2 separate regions of the Homo sapiens genome follow, and region 2 is linked to region 1. Evidence: fine-mapped QTL for protein levels in blood plasma. A gene starts in region 1. The other region holds a variant in brackets. All regions are shown on one strand. Distances are between the middles of the regions.

Region 1 (11,518 bases):
ACTACAATTTGGGCCAGGCACGGTGGCTCACACCTGTAATCTCAGCACTTTGGGAGGCCGAGATGGGTGGATCACCTGAGGTCAGGAGTTCAAGACTGGCCTGGCCAACATGGTGAAACCCTGAATCTACTAAAAATACAAAAATTAGCTGGGCATGGTGATGGGCGCCTGTAATCTCAGCTACTCAGGAGGCTGAGGCAGGAGAATTGCTGGAACCCGGGAAGTGGAGGGTGCAGTAAGCCGAGATTGCACCATTGCACTCCAACCCGGGCCGACAACAGCGAGACTCCATCTCAAAAAAACAAACAAACAAACAAACAAAAAACTACAATTTGGTTCTACCACATCCTGACTACTGTAATATACAGGTAATGCTAAATTTTGATCAGTATTAAGTAGAGATAAAGCAGGGTAAAACAGATCTACGACAATACCTACTTTTTTTATCAGTGGCTTGTGCACTCAACCTCTATGCTCTTTTTTTATGCTCATTCAACTTTCATTTTCATATTCCAGTAAGAAATTTTGCTATTAACAACAAACACCCTTGTATAATTTGTTTAAATGGAGAATTTCGATGCTTTATTTATCATTATGAAACCAAGAACACATACTTTTTTGTAGAAGGCTGTTACATGTAGAGTAATCTGTGTTTTTTTGTTTTTGTTTTTTTGTTTGTTTGTTTTTGAGACGGACTTTTGCTCTTGTTGCCCAGGCTGGAGTGCAGTGGCATGATCTCGGCTCACCACAACCTCCGCCTCCCGGGTTCAAGTGATTCTCCTGCCTCAGCCTCCCAAGTAGCTGAGATTACAAGTGCGTCTCACCACATCCAGCTAATTTTTGTATTTTTAGTAGAAACGGGGTTTCACCATGTTGGCCAGGATGGTCTCAATCTCTTGACCTCGTGATCTGCCCGCCTCGGCTTCCCAAAGTGCTGGGATTACAGGCGTGAGCCACTGCATCCAGCCAGAGTAATCGGTTTTTAAGAAGGGATAAATTACTTTTTTTTTTTTGAGACAGAGTCTCGCTCTGTCACCCAGGCTAGAGTGCAGTGGTGCGATCTCGGCTCACTGCAAGCTCTGCCTCCCGGGTTCACGCCATTCCCTGCCTTAGCCTTCCGGGTAGCTGGGACTACAGGCACCTGCCACCACATCCGGCTAATTTTTTTGTATTTTTAGTAGAGATGGGGTTTCACTATGTTAGCCAGGATGGTCTTGGTCTCCTGACCTGGTGATCCGCCCACCCCGGCCTCCCAAAGTGCTGGGATTACAGGCATGAGCCACCGCGCCCGGCCAAATTACTTTAAAATAAATGAATCCCACACTGGCTTTCCTTAAATCCGGTGTCTTCTTGTATAAATAAACTTCTTAAAAAAGAAAAGACTGAGAAAGGAGGTCTACTGAATGAAATGAACAGCACAGGCTCTGGTCCATTTAACCAGCTATGCCATTCACATTACACAAGCCAGTGTCCTCTATATCTTGGATCACAATTTCTTTACCAAATTCAAAAACAACTTCCACTGCCATGCAATCAACTGCTTAGATGTCTATGAAATATTTGGAAATCATCAAAAGTAGTGAAGATTATATCATATTGTTGACTCTATTGTTCAGTAGTTGTATAAAGCTCTCTGAGAAATGAACTCAATTTTTAGGTGAAACGAATGACGAGAACAGACTTTAAGCACCTACTATTTGCTCATTCAGGGTGTTTTGCACTCTTGATATTATCATAACAACCCTGTAAAGTCAATATTATTGCTGAGATTGAAAGAGATTAAGAAACTTTTCTAAGAGCACGCAACTTTCAAGGATTGAAATTCAGATTGGGTCCAAATGTATGTTAGCACCAAAACTCGGTCAAGTGAAATCTTATGTAGAACCCTAATATACACAACATCATTGCATGTGTGTATGAAGTGATTTATCACACTTAATTACTGGGAAATCAAAGAGAACTCAAGGTAACATGCTTGCCTCCAATTTGTTAAAATTTGAGAGAGTTGGTTTTTTTATTTTTTTAAGAGTTAAAAATATAAAATGAAATACGAATCAATCATGCAGAATCACTGAAGCATAAGAGAACCCAGGGTTGCAAGGGTCACAGTTGAGAAAGCACTGCACTATATACCCTACCCTGCCTCCTTCAGGAAGAGTCATCAACATCAATGCATTTATAATGTCATCTTTATGTCTTATTGCTACCAGTAGCGTTAAGTATACTCACAATACTCACCATAGTCACAGAGTACCACCAACAATAGATTTGAAAAGTCTTTCAACATTGGTTTCATTCTGATTGACAAAATCCCAGGTCTTTAGTCTCCTCATGTCCTTTCTCACGTCCAGATTGTGATTTTTTTCCCCAAAAACACCTGAAATTAGAACCTCAAAAAATGATGGCTCCGTTCAATGTGATTGATAAAATAGTAATCATTAAATGACAAAACCATTCTAAAACTCAAACTTTCTAAGTGATATTGAAAGGAAACTAGAGAGGACACTAATTTTCCCTGGGGCAATGACTTATAATTATACAAGCCTTTTTCATTCCATTATAACTCACAGGTCAAGAATATGCAGGTATGCCCAACACCCACTAAAATTATCTTTGCACAACACCAAAGTCTCTTCTCTTTACAGCACATCCTGACGTGGAGAGTTTATTGTTATTTGCTTAATTTTATCAAAGTTAATAGCCAATTTGGATACATTTTCACATTATTTATCTGCTTGGCATTTCACACTGATCAATTTACTAAATTTCTGCTAAACTTTAATTTAGCATTGTGCTGTGTATACCCAAATGCTCCCTGCCTGGCGTCCACAAATGGGCTAACATTTCCTTGCACAATTGGTGTGTTACCAGGATTGCTTCATTTATCAATTCCTAGGAGCTACATCCAAGTGATCAAAGCTTTTTTAAAAAAAAGATACCCCAGAATACTACAATTAAATATGAACTCCATGTGGCCCTGACTTCCCTTGTTTAGGGCAGCCTAAGGAGAAAACAGACAAATAACAATCATCTTCATCAGTCCTGCAATACTTGTTGCTGCTGGTATGCATCACGAGATCGGTGGTTCACACAGCAATCTTCCCAGTCTACCTAAGAGGGCAGGGAAGACCTTGCTGGCCTGTGGTTCAGTTATTTGTTGGAAGAAGCACTTATTTTATTTTATTTATTTATTTAGAGATGGAGTCTCACTCTGTCGCCTAGGCTGGAGTACAGTGGCGAGATCTCGGCTCACTGCAAGCTCCGCTTCCCGGGTTCACGCCATTCTCCTGCCTCAGCCTCCCGAGTAGCTGGGACTACAGGCGCCCACCACCATGCCCAGCTAATTTTTGGTATTTTTAGTAGAAACGGGGTTTCATTGTGTTAGGCAGGATCTCGATCTCCTGACCTCGTGATCTGCCCATCTCAGCCTCCCAAAGTGCTGGGATTACAGGCGTAAGCCACCGCACCCGGCTGGAAAAGGCACTTATTTTTATATAGACTATTCAACTATAGAATAAGATACTGGGCATTTAAGACAGTTCTTTCATACTAGAGTCTAGCAAACTATGTATTAATATTAAATATAACCAAATATGTACTTTCTTAATGTTTAAGGTCCCCCCCATTATTCACATTTTTTTTTTTTTTTTTTTTTTTTTTTTAGACAGAGTCTTGCTCTGTCACCTAGCCTGGAGTGCAGTGGCATGATCTTGGCTCACTGCAACCTCCACCTCCCAGGTTCAAGTGATTGTCCCACCTCAGGCTTCTGAGTAGCGGGGATTATAGGTGTGCACCACCACGCTTGGCTAATTTTTGTATTTTTAGTAGAAACGGTGTTTCACCACTTTGGCCAGGCTGGTCTCAGATGTCTGGCCTCGTGATCTGCCCACCATGGCCTCCCAAAGTGCTGGGATTACAGGCGTGAGCCACCACACCCAGCCCACAGTTAATCATTTTAATAAGCAAGTATATTATATTCCAAATACATGTTACATCTTTTCAGATAAGAGCACAAATTAGTGGAATTAAGAAGACTGATTGAAATAAGCCAGAATTCAATGGAAGGGAAACTGGTGTGTCTTATTAGCTTTCTTTCAGCAAGAGCTGCTGAACAAAGGAAATACTGTACTTCCTGAAAGGGAAACAGAGATTTGAAGTGTAACTATGCAGATTAGGGCTCCTTCCTCTTCCCCGCCACCCCCACCCAAAAAAAAGAAAAGAAAGGAAAGAAGAAGAAAATTGTTTTGGGTGGAATTAGCCACAGACTTGACCCAATTCTTTCCTCGAACATGGACTGGGAAACCTGGGCAAAGTCAGCCAGTAAGATCCTTGCAGAACACATCACATCACTTGGGCAAGTGTGAGCACTTAAGACAATTACAATGCTTCTTTTAAGTCACTGAGACCTGGTAACCAAACTAAGAAGAAGCAAGCTCCCAAAAGTTGAACTGGCTTCTCTCAGATTTGTTTGCTTCCACGACAATAACATTTTTATTTTTGAAGCCCCAAATCATTACTGATTTAGTGATTATAACACATTTTCTTTCTTATGAAAATGATCGGTAAAACATAGAATGGTGAGACAATCTATATTTAGAGCTGAATGGAAAAAGACTTATAAAACAGACCAGCCTACTTGTCAATCATAATATGGAATATGATCATAACATTAGTCATAATATGTCTCTTTAATTTCTTTCTACCTTGCTTATTTTCTTTCAACATGTTGTTCTCAATACCTCGACTGACTTCTTACAATGTTTGCATTGAGAATTGTTCTAAGAAATTAAGAACTTAGATATATTTTATACACATTTGAAAATACTTCTACCTAGCATTCTTGTATGTAAACTTTAGAGACAAATTCTAAATGCATCAGCTGAGAAGGTGGGGAAAAGTTGTGAATATTCTCAATGGCTAACAGCATCACCCAACCTGAGACCCCATGTTTTTGCTGAAACCAGCTAGGACAAACGCTTCTAAATCTCCCTTCATAGCTGCAGAAAAAGTAAATGAATTACACTAATGTCCATGGGACCAATGATTCGTGAAAGAATAAAATGGAAAACGAAGCAGTTATTTTGTCCCTTCTGACCAACATGCACATGCTTGTGTGTATATATACCAATAGTATTTATTGGGAGGAAATCTCTAGTTCTAAAGCAGCTCGTGTAAACAGGCTTCATTTATCTGTTCATTCGAGTTTGCTCTGCCCTGGTCCCACAGGTTGGGTGCAGCGTTCCTGGGACGCCCTGGCTCGCCCCATCTACTCAGCTTCCCAAATGCCCGCAAGCCCAGTTCACGCCTGGAAGTCTACCCCTCGCGTCGTCAGCTTAAAGCCCTCCTTAATGAGGACCGTCTTTAATTTAATTTAATCCTTGTATTTCATACTTTTTGTATATCAGAAAGGATTTCTTTTTGGAAAGAAACAGTAGCTCAAGACGCGATTTTTCAAGGTTCTGTGGCCAGTCTCAGTCACTCGGCAACATCTGAGCCAAGGCAGAGCCAGGTTCACTTAAATTCGGGACTCCGAAGTGTGGAGACCAATACCCCTTAAAAGCGTCCCCTGGGGCCGAGGCGGGTGTGGGGAGGGGCCGCCACCGTCCACCTGCGCCTTCAGGCTGCGGTGAGGTGGCAGAGTCCGGAGGCATTTCCCGACCCCAGAGGAGCCTCCAAGAGTCTCGCGGCACGGGCGCGAACACCAGGATGCGGAGGGCGCTTCTTACCTTTCGAGACTGACGGGCAGCAACCCCAGGCCGTCCGGGCGCGTGGCGAGGCGGACGGGAAGGCTCAGGGGCGGCGAGGTAGAGCGCCAAGCATCCCGCGTCCCAGACTGCACGCCCTGACCCCGCGGCGTTCGGCTCCCACAGCCCCGCGGGGCCCGCCCCCGACGGCGTGGGGAGGGCGGGCGCCGGGAGGGCGGGGGGCACACGGGACCGGGCGTGGTCGGTTCCCGCCCCTTCTGGGCAGCGCATCCTTTCCTGCCGGTCCCCAGCTCGCCAGCTGCTGGACAGGAAACAGGCAGGAAACGCGCGGCCAGCCAAGGTCCTGCGGGAGGGGGTGCGGCCCCGGCAGACGCAGGTCCCCTCAACACACACCCGCATCCACAGCACACAGCCGGACCAGGGGTTTAACGAAGGACGAGCGAGCAATCTCCTGACACTTCACATTCAATCACTTCTACTCTAGTGTCATTTTCTTCAGGGAGACCACAAAAATAAGTCCTTGAAGCGGCACAGCATGTGGGCTGTAAACTTGCTTTCCCAAATGTCACTGAAGAGTTTCAAAAGAACATAGTTCAGGTAAAGTGCATCTCCATTTTCTTTCCCTGGGGTCAGAATTGGTATTAAAAATAACTAAACATTTTAAAAACTCTACTCTGCAAGTGTTAAAGTTCTTTTTATAGGAATGTGAATTAGTTCAGCCACTGTGGAAAGCAGTTTGGAGATTTCTCAACTAAAAACAGAAAGATCATTCGACCCAGCAATCCCATTACTGGGTGTATGCCCAAAGGAAAATAAATCATTCTGCCAAAAAGACACCCGCACTATGTTTATCACAGTACTATTTACAATAGCAAAGACATGGAATCAACCTAGGTGCCCATCAACAGTAGACTGGGTAAAGAAAATGTGGTACATACACACCACGAAATACTAAACAGCCATAAAAAAAGAACAAAATCACGTCCTCTGTAGCAACATGGATGCAGTTGGAGGACATTATCCTAAGTGAATTAACATAGGAACAGAAAACCAAACACCGAATGTTCTCACTTATAAGTGGGAGCTTAAACAACGGGTACTCATGGACATAAAGATGGCAACAACAAACACTGGAGACTCCAAGTCAAGGGAGGGAGAGAAAGGGGCAAGGGCTGAAAAACATCCTATTGGGTACTGTGTCCGGAATTGGTGGGTTCTTGGTCTTTCTGACTTCAAGAATAAAGCTGCGGACCCTCGCGGTGAGTGTTACAGTTCTTAAAGGCGGCCTGTCCGGAGTTTGTTCCTTCTGATGTTCGGATGTGTTCAGAGTTTCTTCCTTCTGGTGGGTTCGTGGTCTCGCTGGTTCAGGAGTGAAGCTGCGGACCTTCGCCATGAGTGTTACAGCTTTTAAGGCGGCGCGTCTGGAGTTGTTCGTTCCTCCCAGTGTGTCCGTAGTCTCGCTGGCTTCAGAAGTGAAGCTGCAGACCTTCGCAGTGAGTGTTACAGCTCATAAAGGCAGTGTGGACCCAAAGAGTGAGCAGCAGCAAGATTTATTGCAAAGAGCCAAGGAACAAAGCTCCCACGCTTTGCAAGGGAACCCCAGCGGGTTGCCACTGCCGGCGCGTGCAGCCTGCTTTTATTCTCTTATCTGGCCCCACCCACATCCTGCTGATTGGTTCATTTTACAGAGAGCGGAGTGGTCTGTTTTGACAGGGCGCTGATTGGTGCATTTACAATCCCTGAGCTAGACACAAAGGTTCTCCACGTCCCCACTACATTAGCTAGATACAGAGTGTCCACACAAAGGTTCTCCAAGTCCCCACAAGAGTAGCTAGATACAGTGTCCATTGGTGCATTCACAAACCCTGAGCTAGACACAGGGTGCTGATTGGTGTGTTTACAAACCTTGAGCCAGATAGAGTGCCGACTGGTGTATTTACAATCCCTTAGCTAGCCATAAAGGTTCTCCAAGTGCCCACCAGTGAGGAGCCTAGCTGGCTTCACCCAGTGGATCCCGCACCGGGGCTGCAAGTGGAGCTGCCTGCCAGTCCCGCGCCCTGTGCCCGCACTCCTCAGCCCTTGGGTGGTCGATGGGACTGGGCGCTGTGGAGCAGGGGGTGGTGCTCGTCAGGGAGCTCGGGCCTCACAGGAGCCCATGGAAGGTGGGGGAGGCTCAGGCATGGCGGGCTGCAGGTCCCGAGCCCTGCCCTGCTCAGGGAGGCAGCTAAGGCCCTGCGAGAAATTGAGCGCAGCGCCGGTGGGCCGGCACTGCTGGGGGACCCAGCACACCTTCTGCAGCTGCTGGCCCAGGTGCTAAGCCCCTCATTGCCCGGGGCCGGCAGGGCCCACCGGCCGCTCCGAGTGCGGGCCCGCCGAGCCCACACCCACCCGGAACTCGTGCTGGCCCGCAAGCACCGTGCGCAGCCCCGGTTCCCGCCAGCGCCTCTCCCTCCACACCTCCCCGCAAGCTGAGGGAGCCAGCTCCAGCCTCAGCCAGCCCAGCCCAGGAAGGGGCTCCCACAGTGCAGCAGCGGGCTGAAGAGCTCCTTAAGTGCCGCCAAAGTGGGAGCCCAGGCAGAGGAGGTGCTGAGAGCCAGCGAGGGCTGTGAGGGCTGCCAGCACGCTGTCACCTCTCAGTACTATGTTCATTATCTAGGTGACAGGATCAATAGAAGCCCAAACCTCAGCAACATGCAATTACCCTTGTAACAAACCTGCATATGCACCCCCAAATCTAAAACTAAAATTTAAAAAAGAGTTTTAAGTTTTTGGGAATATATGAGAGGATAGATTCCACCTTAACAGCTGTGCTTGTTAAATTGAGTAACTATGCAGTATGGTTTAACACTTGCTTTTCTTTTATGCAGAATATACCATTTGACAGCAAAACTAATATCCGGTATGCAGAATATACCATTTGACAGCAAAACTAATATCTGGTAATGGAAATCAAAGCACAGTGGTGGCCTTTGGAGAGCGATGACAGGAAAGAGGCACCAGGAAACTTTTAGGGGGCGACAGATATGTTCTACTGTTTGGAGTGTGAGTTACATGGATTTACTAAGCATTTGTTAAAACTTGTCTGACTGAAGATCTGTGCATTACAGTTTGTAAACTGTACCTCATTTAAAAAAAAATTTTTAAATATGTGATTTGCAGGTCTTTGACTCTATCACTTCATTTTTAAAAAGGTAGCACAAGTATTTACTTATATGTTACCAGAGGTATAAAATTTTCTAAGAACTTATATTGTCAGCCAGGTGCAGTGGCTCATGGCTGTAATCACAACAATTTGGGAAACCAAGGCAGGAGGTTTGCATGAGCCCAGTACTTTTAGACCAGCCTGGGCAAAACAGCAAGACTCCATCGCCACAATAAATAAGAAATTATTTGGGAGGCCAAGGCAGGTGGATCGCTTGAGCTCAAGAGTTCAAGACCAGCCTGGGCATCATGGCAAAACCCTGTCTCTACCAAAAATAGAATGTACTAGCCGGCTGTGATGGCACGTGCCTGTGGTCCCAGCTACTTGGGAGGCTGAGGCAGGAGGATCACTTGAACCCAGGTGGAGGCTTCAGTGAGCCAAGATGATGCCACTGCACAGGCTGGGTAAGACCCCGTCTCAAAAAATAAAATAAATAAAAAATTAGCCAGGTGTGGTGGCATGTACCTGTTGTCCCAGCTACTCTGGAGGCTGAGGTGGGAGAATTACTTGAGCCCGAGAGGTTGGGGCTACAGAGAACAGTGATCACGCCACTGCACTCCAGCCTACATGACAGAGTGAGACCAACCAATCTTGTCAAATAGTTACTTCTAGCAATACTAATTAAATCCATCCAAAGTTTCAAAGAAGACTTTAAGGTGATCATCCAATTTCACTGCCAGTAGAATTATCTAGTCTAATTTCCATTCACCAATTTACACTAGGATTCTTTTTCAAATACATACCACCCACTCCCTGGCATTTCAGTTTTAAAAGCAAAAGCTCAGTGGAAAGAGCAGGCATTGGAGTTACAAAAGTACAAAAATTATCTGGTGTGGTGGTGTGCACCTGTAGTTCCAGCCATCAGGAGGCTGAGGCGGGAGGACTGCTTGAGCCCAGAAGGCAGAGGTTGCAGTGAGCCGAGATTGTGCCACTGCGCTCCAGCCTGGGCAATAGAACCAGACCCTGTCTGAAAAAAAAAAAAAATTATATGGGGGTATAAGGAACCCAGAACAGGATAAAACAATCTTGAAAATGAAGAGCGTATTTGGAGGACTCACACTTTCCAATTTCAGAACTTACTACAGGCTGGTTCATGCCTGTAATCCCAGCACTTTGGGAAGCCAAGGCAGACGGATCACTTGAGGTCAGGAGTTTGAGACCAGCCTGACCAACAGCGAAACCCCATCTCTACTAAAAAAAAAAAAAAAAAAAAAAAATTAGCTGGGGATGGTGGCACACACCTGTAGTCCCAGCTACTCAGGAGGCTGAGGCAGGAGAATTGCTTGAACCCGGGAGGCGGAGGTTGCAGTGAGCCGAGAATGTGCCACTGCACTCCAGCCTGGGTGACAGAGTGAGAGTCGGTCTCAAAAAAAAAAGTAACTTACTACAAAGCAGTAGTAATCAAGACAGTGTGATATTAGCAAAAAGATAGATAAATAGCTAGAAATGCAAGTTCAGAAACTCATATCTATGGTCAATTGAGTTTTTAAAAATTACTTTTTAAAACAAAAAACCCCATATGCAAGCATATGGTCAATTGTTTTTTGACAAGTGTGCCAAGACCATTTAATGGTCAACTAATGGTGCTGGCATAACCAAATAGCCACATGCAAAAGAATGAAGTTGGACCTCCTCCTTACACTGCATACAAGTAAAAAGATACACTTTTAGATAAGCCTAGATTAAATTCCAGCCCTGACACTGCAAATCTGGGTAGATTTCTTAATCCCTCCTTCCCTTCACTGTAGAAAGCATATAATAGTTATTGTGAAATATTATAGTGATTAAGTGAAACATATCGGAGGCAGCTTTCTCTGCATTAATCTTTCAGGCACATACTTTTTCCCCAAAAAGCTACTCTTCAAGGGAGGAAATCCAGGTACAAGTGGCTCTATCAATATGCTTGGTCATTTTTTAAATAACAGCTTTATTGAACTGATTGGTCAATTTTGTCTCCATTAGAATTCTTGCCAAACTGTACTGCTGTCTTTATTGGACAGTTAAGATACAGTTTAACGTTTTCAGGCCGGGCGCGGTGGCTCACGCCTGTAATCCCAGCACTTTGGGAGGCTGAGGCGGGCGGATCACGAGGTCAGGAGATCGAGACCAACCTGGCTAACATGGTGAAACCCCGTCTCTACTAAAAAAAAAAAAAAAGATATAGTTTAACGTTTTCTAAAAGAAGGCAATATAAAAATCAAAGGAAAAAATGCTTTCAAACAAACAGTGGTATGGTCAGTATTGAACTATAACTGTTCTGGCTCTCAAAATACCTTCAGTTTTCTTTCTGGGTCAGTGACTGATCTAGTAATCTTGTGCAAATTGTATAAAATTTATACATTATCTCAATAACTCCGTTTATACAAATGGAGAGAGCTTTTATGTCTCTGGGTAATGCTCTGAGATGAAAGCTATAACTGACTCATGATTTCGTATCAGGACACAAGGAAGAAGACGAATGGCTCAATTTCCACACTGTAATAACAAGAACTTACATGTGTATAACAACTACTCTGGAGTGCTTTCCACATCATGGACATGGCCCATGCCATATTTGAGTAAGACAGAGCAGATCTCACTCAGACAGGCTAAGCCTTGACAAGTCTGGTTG
Region 2 (11,518 bases), 500 kb before region 1:
AGCTAGGGCTACCAAGATAGCAGACCAGGCATTTCCTCATCTTCAACCTCCTGTCCCCTCACTCCTCCCAGCTAGACCCTGACACCACTGCCTACATCCCCCCACCCTCTGCCCTGGGATGGGGGAAAAAATAAAACAGCTGAGCATGCAGCTAATGATGATATTTACAGCTACCAGTAGGGAGTGTTCCCAATGCGCCAAATGCTTAACATCCGTGATCTGACAGCCCCCCTGTGATGGTAAATATCCTCTCCACTTCTCAGATTCCAATACACAACCCCTGAGACTCAGGATGCTCTTGCCATGGTCTTTTTTCCCTTTTTAAATTTTTACAAAAATTTCCCACATAGCAACCAACGTAACCACAAGCCTCTTCTAACAGCTGCCTGACCCTCCTCCTCTTAGCCTAAACACTTCATCTCTTTTCTGTGGACAATGCCTGCTTTCAAAAGCTCTTTTCTTCAGGGAGAACAAGAGTCTGCTAAATTCTATTAGTGTTCAGCAAACCCCAGGGCCCCAGTCTCAACTTTGGCACAGGAAAGTCCAACACTCCACATCCCCTTCCTGGAGAAGCCAATCTGTGGGAAATGTAACTCTCAGCCTACAAGAAAGCTTCAGACTGACTTGTCTTTTTCTCCAGCTCCTTCTAGCTGTGCCATCGGGGACAGCTTGGTGAATATAAAAGATTTTCAAAGCCTATAACAAGCCATATAGCTCTAGAGGGGTGTGTGTGTGTATGAGAGAGACAGAGAAACACGTGTGTGTAACACAAATGTATGTTTTTAGAATAATTATTGAAGTTTTCTTATCATTTCAGAGACTTGGTTTTAAGTGAAGGAACTATGTGAGCAGCAGCAGCATGTCCAGGAGAGGGCACCCTCTCACAGCCTGGCTAAAATGCTCAGGGCAGGTCCTGGTTCTGCAGTCACTGCCCTCTGGGGAAGGTTGTTCAAGTTGTCGGTGCACATGCCCCATGCACCCAGCCGGATGCCCTGAGAGGGGGATGCTGTGATTATCAGACAAAGCCTGTTGCGACCACCAGAGGAGGTCCATCTCTTCCCATGAGGCACCCCTGCAGCGGTCTTCTTACAGTGTCTCCAGAACCCGGCTGAGTACTTCCAACTGTGCACTGATCCTTGCCAGAAGCTTGGCCAGTTTGGTCGGCTTGGGGGTCTGACTGTTGTGAGAACAGTGGTCTCAGTTGGTCATGTGCTCAGGACAATTCAGAGAACTTAAAGAAACCCAGGTACCTGGGCTCCACTCCAGACATACTGAATCTGAATCACTGGGGTAGGACCCAGGCAGGTATGGATTTTTGAAACCCCACAGGTGATTTAGATGAGCACCTTGACAGGAGTTAGTCTGCCGCAGTTCCATGTACACCGTCAGAAGACACAAGACTCCTGAGTCAGAAACAAAGCACAGCAAGCAGCATAAACTTCATGTTCAGGTTGGTTCCCTTTGTTCTCTGGCACCACAGGGTGATGCAGAGTGGCCCAGGTGAATACAGAGCACACATTGGGTTCATCACAGCAGAGGAGCCCCAAGTTTCAGAAACCCAAATCTTTTGAAAGGCTGAAAGGACTGCAGGTAAACCTGCCCAACTTTTACACCATAGTAAGACATTGTCTTTTTTTTATTTTTTGGAGACAGGGTCTTGCTGTGGTGCCATCATGACTCACTGTAGCCCTGACCTAGGCTCAAGCAACCATCCTATCTCAGCCTCCAAAGTAGCTGGGACCACACATGCATGCCACCATGTCTGGCTAATTTTTTTTTTTTTTTTTTTTTTTTTTTTTTTTGTAGAGATGGAGTCTCATTATGTTGCCCAGGCTGATCTTGAACTCCTGGGCTCAAGTGACCTGCCTGCCTCAGACTTCCAAAGTGCTGGGATTACAGGCATGAGCCACTGTGCCTGGCCAAAATTATCTTTATTATCATACACAGTAAGAAAATCTGTCTTCCCTGGAGGGGGACTCTTATTTTTGTCTGCCAAGATGATTTCCTTTATAATCTTCTTGAAAAAAATAGTTGAAAAGATAACTAGAACAAGGCTGGGCGCAGTGGCTCATGCCTGTAGTCCCAGTACTTTGGGAGGCCGAGGTGGGTATATCACCTGAGGTCAGGAGTTGGAGACCAGCCTGGCCAACATGGTTAAACTCTGTCTCTACTGAAAATACAAAAATTAGCCAGGCATGGTGGTGCGTGCCTGTAATCCCAGCTACTCAGGAGGCTGAGGCAAGAAAATCACTTGAACCCAGGAGGCGGAGGTTGCAGTGAGCCAAGATCATGCCATTGCACTACAGCCTGGGTGACAGGGTGAGACTCCATCTCAAAAAAAAAAAAAAAGGGCTGGGCGCGGTGGCTCACGCCTGTAATTCCAGCACTTTGGGAGGCTGAGGTGGGTGGATCACAAGGTCAAGAGATTGAGACCATCCTGGCCAACATGGTGAAACCCCATCTCTACTAAAAATACAAAAATTAGCCAGGCTTGGTGGCGTGCACCTGTAGTCCCAGTTACTGGCTGAGGCAGGAGAATCGCTTGAACCTGGGAGGCAGAGGCTGCAGTAAGCAGAGACTGTGGCACTACACTCCAGTCTGGTAACAGAGCGAGACTCCATCTCAAAAATAAATAAATAAATAAATAAAATAAAATAAAAAGATAATTAGAACAAAAGTGCAGTGCCCCTGCTCATAAACATGCAGAAATACAAGAAACTCCTGGGGATTTTTCTCCTGACACACTCCTGGTTAAGAAGCACTAATGCAGGATATTGTTCTATATCTACATGCTTTTCAGTTTTCAAAGAACTAATTGAGAAATGAGCTCCTTATAATAGAGAGGATGGCTGCCTCATGGATGGAGAAATGGGCAACTGACTTATGGTGTGATGGCAGCTACCACTACATAAATATCATGCATTTTCTGAATGTTTTACAAAACAAACATCAGATTCACATTTGCAAAAGTAGGAGTAATGTAAGGGTTAAACTAAACAATATATGCAAAATGTTGGCACATACTAGATAATAAATGTTAGTTCTCTCTCCTCTTCTGCCCTTTGCCTACTTCACAGCCTATCCTGGCTGCACAAAGCCAACAAGAATGGCTTAGACTTATATCTTTTTCCTGCTAAGACGGCACTGTTGGAAGGAGTCCTTTGGGTCCTTTAAATGTGTTCCAGGAGAGGCACCCAGCATGCTAAAAAGGTAATAAAAATGACTGTGCCACCGGCAACCTGTTATCTAGGATTTCCTGATCTACCACTCACTTGATTCTACCTTGTACCTGCCTGTCATTCCTCCTCACTTTCTCTGCCTCAATCCCTGCTCCAATCTCACAGTACTAAACCTGTTCTCATCCACTGCTGATCACTGCTGGCCTTGTCAAGGCCACCTTCTAGAGACTGTCTAGACTGCATGTCTTACTCCCACAGCTCTTACTTATTAATTCATTTAGTAAGAATAATGGTAAGTAAATGAAACTATCTCTATTCACAGATGATATGATCTCTTATCTGGAAAATCCACAAAACACGCTTTCAGAACCAATGAACAAGTACAGTAAAGTTGCAGGATATGAGGTCAATATATAAAAAATCGATTGTATTTCTATATACTAGCGATGAATAATCTGAAGATGAAATCAAGGAAACAATTTACAATAGCATCTAGAAGAAAAAATACTTGAGATAAACAACATAGGTGCAAGGCTTCATAATCACACTGTATCCCATAAATATATACAGTTATTATGTGTCAATTAAAAACAGTAATAAAAGCCAGAAAAGGGTATAGCGACTGAAAGGTTTTTCCAGTGTACTTCTAATCAGCAACATTTGGCACTTGCAAAGAAAATGCAAGTCTTATACACTAAAAATTGTAAGATATCATGAAAGAAATTAAAGAAGGCCTAAATAAGTGGAAAGACATGCCATGTTCATGAATCAGAAGACTTAAGTATTAAGACGGCAATATTTCCCAAATTGATGAACAGATTCAACACTATCCTCTCAAAAATGTCATCTGGCTTCTATGTAGAAATTGACAAACTGACCCTAAAGTTAATATAAAAATGCAAGGGATCCAGAATAGCCGAAACAATCTTACAACAAAACTGGGGGACTCAAGTTTCTCTATTTCAGATCTTAATGCAAAGCTATAGTAATTAAGACCGCATGGCACTAGAAAAGGCTAGACATGTAGCTTAATGGAATAGAACTACATTTTTATTAAATTATGAATAGAAATAAATCTTTACTTTTATGGACAATTGATTTAGACAAGCCTAGGCAATCATATGGGAGATGAACAGTCTTTTCAATAAGTGGTGCTGGGACAACTGGATATTCACCTATAAAAGAATGAAGTTGGACTCCTATTACAAACCACATACAAAAATTAACTCAATATGGGTCATAGTCTTACATGCAAGAGTTAAAACTATGGAACTCTTAGGAGAAAACCTGGGAATAAATCTTTATACCTTGAATTAGGCAATGGTTTCTTAGACACTGAAATCACAGGCAAAAAAAGAAAAAAAATGTAAATCGGACTTCTTCAAAATAAAAATCTTTTGTGGTTTAAAGCACATAATCAAGAAAGTGAAAAGACAGCCACAAAATGGGAGAAGATACTTGCAAGTCACAGATCTGATAAGGGACTGGAGTCCAGAATAAATTAACTCTTACAAATCAACAAAAAAAGGACAACCCAATTTAAAAATAAGCAAATGAGTTAAATAGACATTTCTCCAAAGAGGATATACAAATGACCATGGAAAGATGCTCAACACTAATCATCAAGGAAATACAAATCAAAACCACAATGACATACCACTTCATATGCACTGAAATAAAAAAGACAGACAATAACAGTGTTGGTGAAGATGTGGAGAAATTGGAACTCTCATGCATCATTGATGGGATCAGAAAAAAGATGCAGCCCATGTGTCAGTTCTTCAATGTTAATGTAAAGATACAGTTACCATAATAGCCTAGCAATTCCACTCCCAGGTGTCTCTCCAAGAGAAATGAAATATAAGTCCACACAAAGACTTGTATGCAAATGTTCATGTCAGCATTATTCATAGTAGCCAAAAAAAAATGGAAACAACCCAAGTATCCATCAACGAATGAGTGGACAAACAAAATGTGATATATCCATAAAATGGATTATTATCCAGCAATAAAAATGAATGATGTATTACTGATACATGCTACAACACAGGTGAACTTTTAAATCATTATGCTAAGTATAAGAAGCCAGACACAAAAAGCCACACGTTTTATGGTTCCATTTATAGGAAATGCTCAGAATAGACAATTCTGTAGAGACAAAAAGTAGATACAAGGTTGCCAGGAAAGAGAAAGGCATGACTCCTAATGAGTACAGAGTTTTGTGGGAGAGAAGGGTGGTGAAAATGTTCTAAAATGTTAAAGTGGTGATGGTTGCACAATTCTATGAATATACCAAAAACCACTGAATTATAAACTTTAGAGGGGTGACATCTATGACGTGAATTATATCTCAATAAAACTTTTCTTTTTTTTTCAAGTGAGGCCCAGCCTTCTCATATTTGTGATGTTAATGTCCACACAACCTCATCTGTACTCACAAAATTGTGAAGGAAGAGAACCTGGGTCCACACACACTTTAATGAAGCACGGTTCCTGAGTGTGGCTGCATCTGGTCCAGCTAGAAAGTTGTGCCTGGCATTTGACCTGCTAAAAAGCCAAGTTCCACATGGTCTAGAGTTCAATGCAGAAATATCCCTGGTACATATAAAGAAACCACTCCTGCTAGAGGGGTGGCGCCCGGTGGAGCTGCCTGTGCCCCACCCGCCCTCCCATGCCTCACACCCCTCTCAGTTGTCAGTTGCCCCTGGAACAGGTACTTCTGGAAATTCATATAGCCAAGGAAAGTCAAAAATGAAGAAGAATCCAACAAAAACACAGAAATACATCAGTTGACTTGGGTCAATGGCATTACTAACTACCCCCGGAGAAGCCTGGACACATCTTCAGTGTCTCTATTTTCCTTTCTGCCCTCCCCCAGTGCCCACTCCATCCCAAGTCCCTTTACAAAGCTCTGTGACAGTGGCTCTCCTAAGTATCTAGAATCTACCTGCTCTCCTAAGGCTCACTGCCTCCCCGAGTTCAGGCTTTATCAGCCTCCTCCCACAAACACGTAGCCTCCTCCCTGCTTTCCCTACCTCCAGCCCAGCCTAGCTACAATCCTCTGGGCAGAAGCCCCATTGGGTGTGTTTACATTCCAAATTTGTGCAGAAAATCCACATAGCTTCATTGGGTTACCCAGTCCAGAGCAAAAACGCCAGGCCTTTCTCACTCTGTCATCCAAGCTCAAAATCCAAGAGAGGAGAGTTTCAAGGAGGAGGAGCTTGGGAAGTTATCCACTGGGGTCAAGCTCCATGGAAAGGTCATGTAATAAAAAAACTGAAAAGAATCACTTGGGATGTGGTATCAGGGGGGTTACTGCAGACCTCTGGAGAAGCCATTTCAGGGGTGAGGTCAGAAGCCAACGTGCATTGGATGAAAGAATAAATATAGGTGGATTCTCAGTTTTGTAAGATGTAAAAATCAAGAGAAGCAAAATGAAAAAAAGCACTGATGTTGAAGACAGTTTCCCAGTTGCCTTGTTACATTTTCAG[T/A]GTGGGACTGAAGGGGTGGTAGGCATTACTTCAACAGAATCACAACACATTTTGCCCTTCTCACGGCCTGGCGCCTGGAAAAGCTTTGGGAATTATTAGCTGCTGCTATTGATGTTGAGGGCACCCACATGCCTTTAGAACCAGAATCTAAAATGTTCAGCCTCTCAATGTCTAAAATGAACTGCTGCAATGTTGCAGATTTAAAAATTAGAGGAAAGTTATTTTATTAAATACATTTTAGAATATAGGTTTTATAGAAAGTATGTTATCATAGCTACTCTAGAAGCTGAACTTGGGAGAGTCCCATGGTTAGAGGGACTGAGCATTCTGCCAACAACCAGCCCCACCTTGCCAGCCAGGCCAGTGAGCCACCCCAGAAGCAAGGCCACCTGCCTCAGTCAAGCCTGCAGGTCACTTGCAGCCCTGATGGACAGTCTGTGGGCAACCTCCTGAGAAACCCAAACGGGAACCATTCTGCTAAGCTGCTCCCAAATCTCTGACACACACAGACTGTGAAATAACAAATATTCATTGTCCGTTTAAGGCACTAAGTTTTGGAGTAATTTATTTTGAGAAACAGATAACTAACACAGCCCTGACAGCAATTGGTTATTGGCTATGTGATGCCGAGGGAGTGGATAACTTCCTAGCATGGTGGCTTCTGCTCTGCAAGGGCAATTCTTCAGGAAGCAGGTGGCTGCGGTGAGCAATACTCAAAGCTGGGAGATGAGTGCATCCGCCTGGTAAAGGGGCCCTGGGCAAGGCACCAATAGCATCCACTGGGGGTGTTGATTATAATCTAGTACCTAAATATAGTTTTGGTTTTGACAGGTCAGTTTGTACACAAACACAATTGTGGAAATATTTTGCATTTCTTTTGAAGGTCTCACCTCCTTAGTGTGTGTATCCAGGAGGTACACAACTAGAACTGGATGCACGAGGCAGCAGCAGTGGGAAGCAGCAAGGTGATCTAGAGACACTTTATTTATTACTCACTAAGTCCCAAAAAGTGCTTGCAAATATAGAAAGTGCAGGTAGAGATGATCAATAATAACTAACTATAGTGTCTTCCCTTCATTGCCATTGAGGTCTTGGTTTCCAATAAGACACTTCATAACTCATTCCTAAGCATGCTGTTGGAAATGGGAGGGAGGGAGAGGTGGCACACCAACGAGGTCAGGGAGGGAAGAGAGACTCTACGTCAGATGACGATGTCTCAGTTGTCACTTCAGGTTCTGGCTGCTCTCTCCACTGTACAAGGAAAGCCACCAAATAGAGGGCAAACTGCTCCCCCTACTCTCCCCAGAACACCCCTTTTTCCTATCCCTAGGTGTAAGTGCAGGAGACCCTGAGCATCTAATGGAGTCAGATGCTAAGTTAAACACCCAGAAGTCCCGGTTTCTATGGGGCCAGAGGAAAAGGCAGAGTGCTATTTCCAGACTTCAGTGGCAACCGAAAAATGAAAAAGACTCGTGTGGGTGTGGGGCAAAGGCTGCCCCAGAATGCCCAAACTTTAGCTTCAATAAACCTATCATAGCCATAATGAGGCAGTGCTGGGGCAGAAAAGAGAACCATATAGGGTCTTCTGCTCTGGCAGAATCATACCTGGTTGTGCAACCAAAGTGTCTTCTCACACCTGCCTCCTATGACACCATTTGGGTTTCTCCAACAGTCTTCCACGTGTGTGTGTGTGTGTGTGTGTGTGTGTGTTTAGAAAGAAGCATCTGGTCACCAGAAACTCAAAGGCCAATAACTCTTAACAAAAATACATTCACACTGGACAAGTGAACACTCAATCTAACACACAGCACCTGTGGCCCTGGGATGCTAGGCATGAGGTGGTTTTCTGCAGTGCTGCTTCTCATTCACCATCAGCATCAGAATCAGCATGAGCTTAATGACTGCTTGTTGCCTGCTTTGCAGTGATGATGACAATGATGGTAATATTAATGATGATGATGATGATGATGTTAATGAGCCCATGGACCAGATTTAGTGCTGCTGCCTATTTTGAAATTAAGAAATACATGATGACAGAAACTGAATTCAGGTAGCACTGGGCTAAAGGCAGATGACTGATGACTGCTTGGTGGCTAGCTTATATGCAATTCTTATGATGACCCTAAGGTAATTGTTGTTGATGATGATGATAATGATAATTGATGATCATGATCATGATGAGTCAGATCTGGGAAAACATCACCTGGCCTTCAGCAGCTAATGCATAGTAGTAATGAATAATTTTCTCTGGGCTTGAATAGGAATTCATGGTATGGACGTGGAAAAGAAGGAGGCTCTAGATCAAAAGAGAAAAGATAAGCATGGTCCGTTTTCAAGATATTGTGAAAAGTACAGGTTGAGCAATCCAAAAATCTGAAATGCTCAAAATTCTGCAACTTTTTGAGTATCAATATGATGCTCAAAGGTCATGCTCAAAGGAAATGCTCATTGGAGCATTTTAGATTTTAGATTTTCAGTTTGGGAATGCTCAACCAGCAAATATAATGCAAATATTCCAAAATCCTAAATCTAAAACACTTCTGGCTCCAAGCATTTCAATTAAGAAACATTCATTCTGTACTGATGTGGAGGCTGAAAACCTTGAATTTTATTTACCAGGTAGGGGAACATCATCATTAGTAGTGTTTCTTAACCTCATTAGTACTGACATTTTGGAATAGATAATTGCTGTGGGAGTCTGTTCTGTGTGCTGTGGGGTGTTTAACAGCATCCCTGCCCTCCAACCACTTGACGCCAGTAGCACACCTCCAGTAGTTACTGTGTAAAATATCTGTGGACATTACCAAATGCTCCTGGGGGAGGTCAAAAGCACCCTCGTTGAGAAGCATTGAGCTAAGAGAAACAGCAGACAACACGAAGCAGTCAACAGAGAACGGCCCTAAGCAGGAGAAGAAATGTCAGGCTGAAGGCAGTTCGTGCAGGGAGAGAGACTGTCCTCCCTCTTCCAGAGAAAAGAGCTGTCACGACACTGGACGAGGGCCCAGAGGCAGGACTTCAGAGCAACAACCTCAGAGAGCCATGATTCCAGAGCAGTCTCAGTGCCTGCTGTCACCACCTCGGACACGGCAGGTCCCACTCACCTCGGCTAGAGCTGCACCTGACTCACCCAGTCAGGGAGATGCCACTGTCTTCCTGAGGCCCTCTCATTTGGAGAGCACCTTCTTCAGAGCAACCCAAGGGAAGCCGGAGTTCCTCTTCAGCAGGGCTTTGAGATGCTTTCTAGCATGCCAGGTCCCTCCCTTCACAAAGGAAACACCCAGAGAGCAGGGAGGCAAGGGGCAAGCCCTCCCTCGCAGCGGCGCGGTCGACCCAAGCAGGAAGTGGAATCCTGCAGGGAAGCTGCCCAGAGCCCCTCTGCCTGCCACAGGTCCCTGTAAAAATGGTAGAATAAGTGCTAGGAAATGCAAATTGTAATCAAGGGCCATGCGACACTTAAAAAACTACACCTTGGTTTCCAAAGAAACAGAATGCTATTATGAGAGGCTCTGCCTCATTAGCCTCGGTTAATGTCAGCGTGTGTCTGAGGACAATGCCCCATGGTTCTATGATGGAGAGCAACTCAGCTGTGATGCCGCCTTCTCTTCTTCAATCGGATTGAGAATGAAGGCTTCACCTGTGGCTCTGAAGCAGACAGGTAGGAGTCTCACTGAGACACCTAGACGCAGAACAAATGACTCACCAGGATGAAGCTCCACCACTGCACAGCAGAGGAACGTGCACTGTACCCAGTGATGACTTGGGGCTCGGGCTCTGGGAGCCAGTGTGGCTCCTTACAGGCTGTGTGTTCTGGAGGGACTGAAATCTTCTCCTAGCAAATGGTGGACCAGGCTGGGGTCCCTGGAGCAAAGAGCAGCATGCAGGGCTGGGCTGTACCTGGGCATGTCAGTACCCCCTGCAAAGGTTAACTTAGCCCGCTAAGGGGACTCCCTGAGGCATCTAATTCAAAGGGTGAAATAATCTATTGAGTGCAGCCACACAGAATGAGCAGTTATGGGGGAGAGAAGGGATTCACTGAAACAGGGCAGGCTTTGTAGGGCTCCCATAGCTCCACCCTTGGGCCCAGGGCAACTCCTAGGGCCCCAAGCCAATTTTGAGCCCCCAGCAAGACAGGGAGCCCCTAGAGCTTCAGTATTCTCATATGAAAAACTAGGATAATGAGGCCTAACCACAGGTGACTGTGAGAACAAGGAAGAACATATGAGAAAGTGCTTCATGGGCCCTAAAGTGGGGAGTAAATGTTGGTTGTTATTGGCCTAATTGCATATGCTTTACAAATGGTACTTTCATTGTAATAAAGCATCTGCATTTCTACAGGAGAAGTTCTAGAGTTATTTTAACTCCTGATAAGAAAATAATATGTCCATGAGAGACCCTGACCCTGAGGCATTCAAACAGTTTGCAAACAGGCCTGGGCTCCCTGCCAGCACAGGCAGGCACTCCCCGGGATCCCAGGCCCTAGGGCAGTTTCAGAGACAGCAACCCAAAGCCATGCCAACTCTCCTCTAGAAGTACAAACAGTCCCTGCAGGCTCCTGGACAAACATCCAACTGACCCTTGATGCTGGGGACCAACAGTGAAAGGGAAGCTATACCCTGACTCCACATTAGCAAAGACGAATGAGCTGGAACTCACTTCTTTCTGCTCTTCCTATGTGATCTGGTCTGTTCAGAAACGCCTTTGCAGTGCTCTGAAGCCACATCTTCTGTAGCAGGTTGTTTGCAAAAACAACTGCAATGACCCTCCCCTCCCACATGGTTAATGTTCCTCTCCTCCCAACGTGAGCAGGGATCTGGGGTGCATCTGTGACTTGCTTTGACCCATGGGATG

Which allele goes with the higher level. Alleles are on the strand shown, and positions count from the first base shown. The strength of an association depends on the size of the effect and on how common the allele is.
As copies of A replace T in region 2, the plasma level of the protein whose gene starts at base 5,868 in region 1 goes up (moderate association).

The links. A credible set is the group of variants that fine-mapping cannot tell apart. PIP is the chance, under the fine-mapping model, that this variant and not a neighbour inherited with it causes the effect. The UK Biobank Pharma Proteomics Project read protein levels with antibody pairs (Olink). The fine-mapping took linkage between variants from a reference panel, not from the people measured, so its PIPs are less certain.
Region 2: its variant is the best candidate, but not a certain one, in a credible set for the plasma level of the THSD1 protein (UK Biobank, PIP 0.52).

The regions. Positions count from the first base shown.
Region 1 is chr13:52,400,305-52,411,822 of GRCh38, forward strand. THSD1 (thrombospondin type 1 domain containing 1) reads right to left here and starts at 5,868. Exons shown (of 5, transcript NM_018676.4): 1 at 5,727-5,868; 2 at 2,239-2,377. The coding sequence starts at 2,296. RefSeq lists a silencer at 5,798-5,957.
Region 2 is chr13:51,895,593-51,907,110 of GRCh38, forward strand. It overlaps a transcript of TMEM272 not described here. Among named protein-coding and RNA genes, the nearest start is that of CCDC70, 39 kb to the left of the region's middle. The variant T/A (reference allele first, on the strand shown) is at 6,671.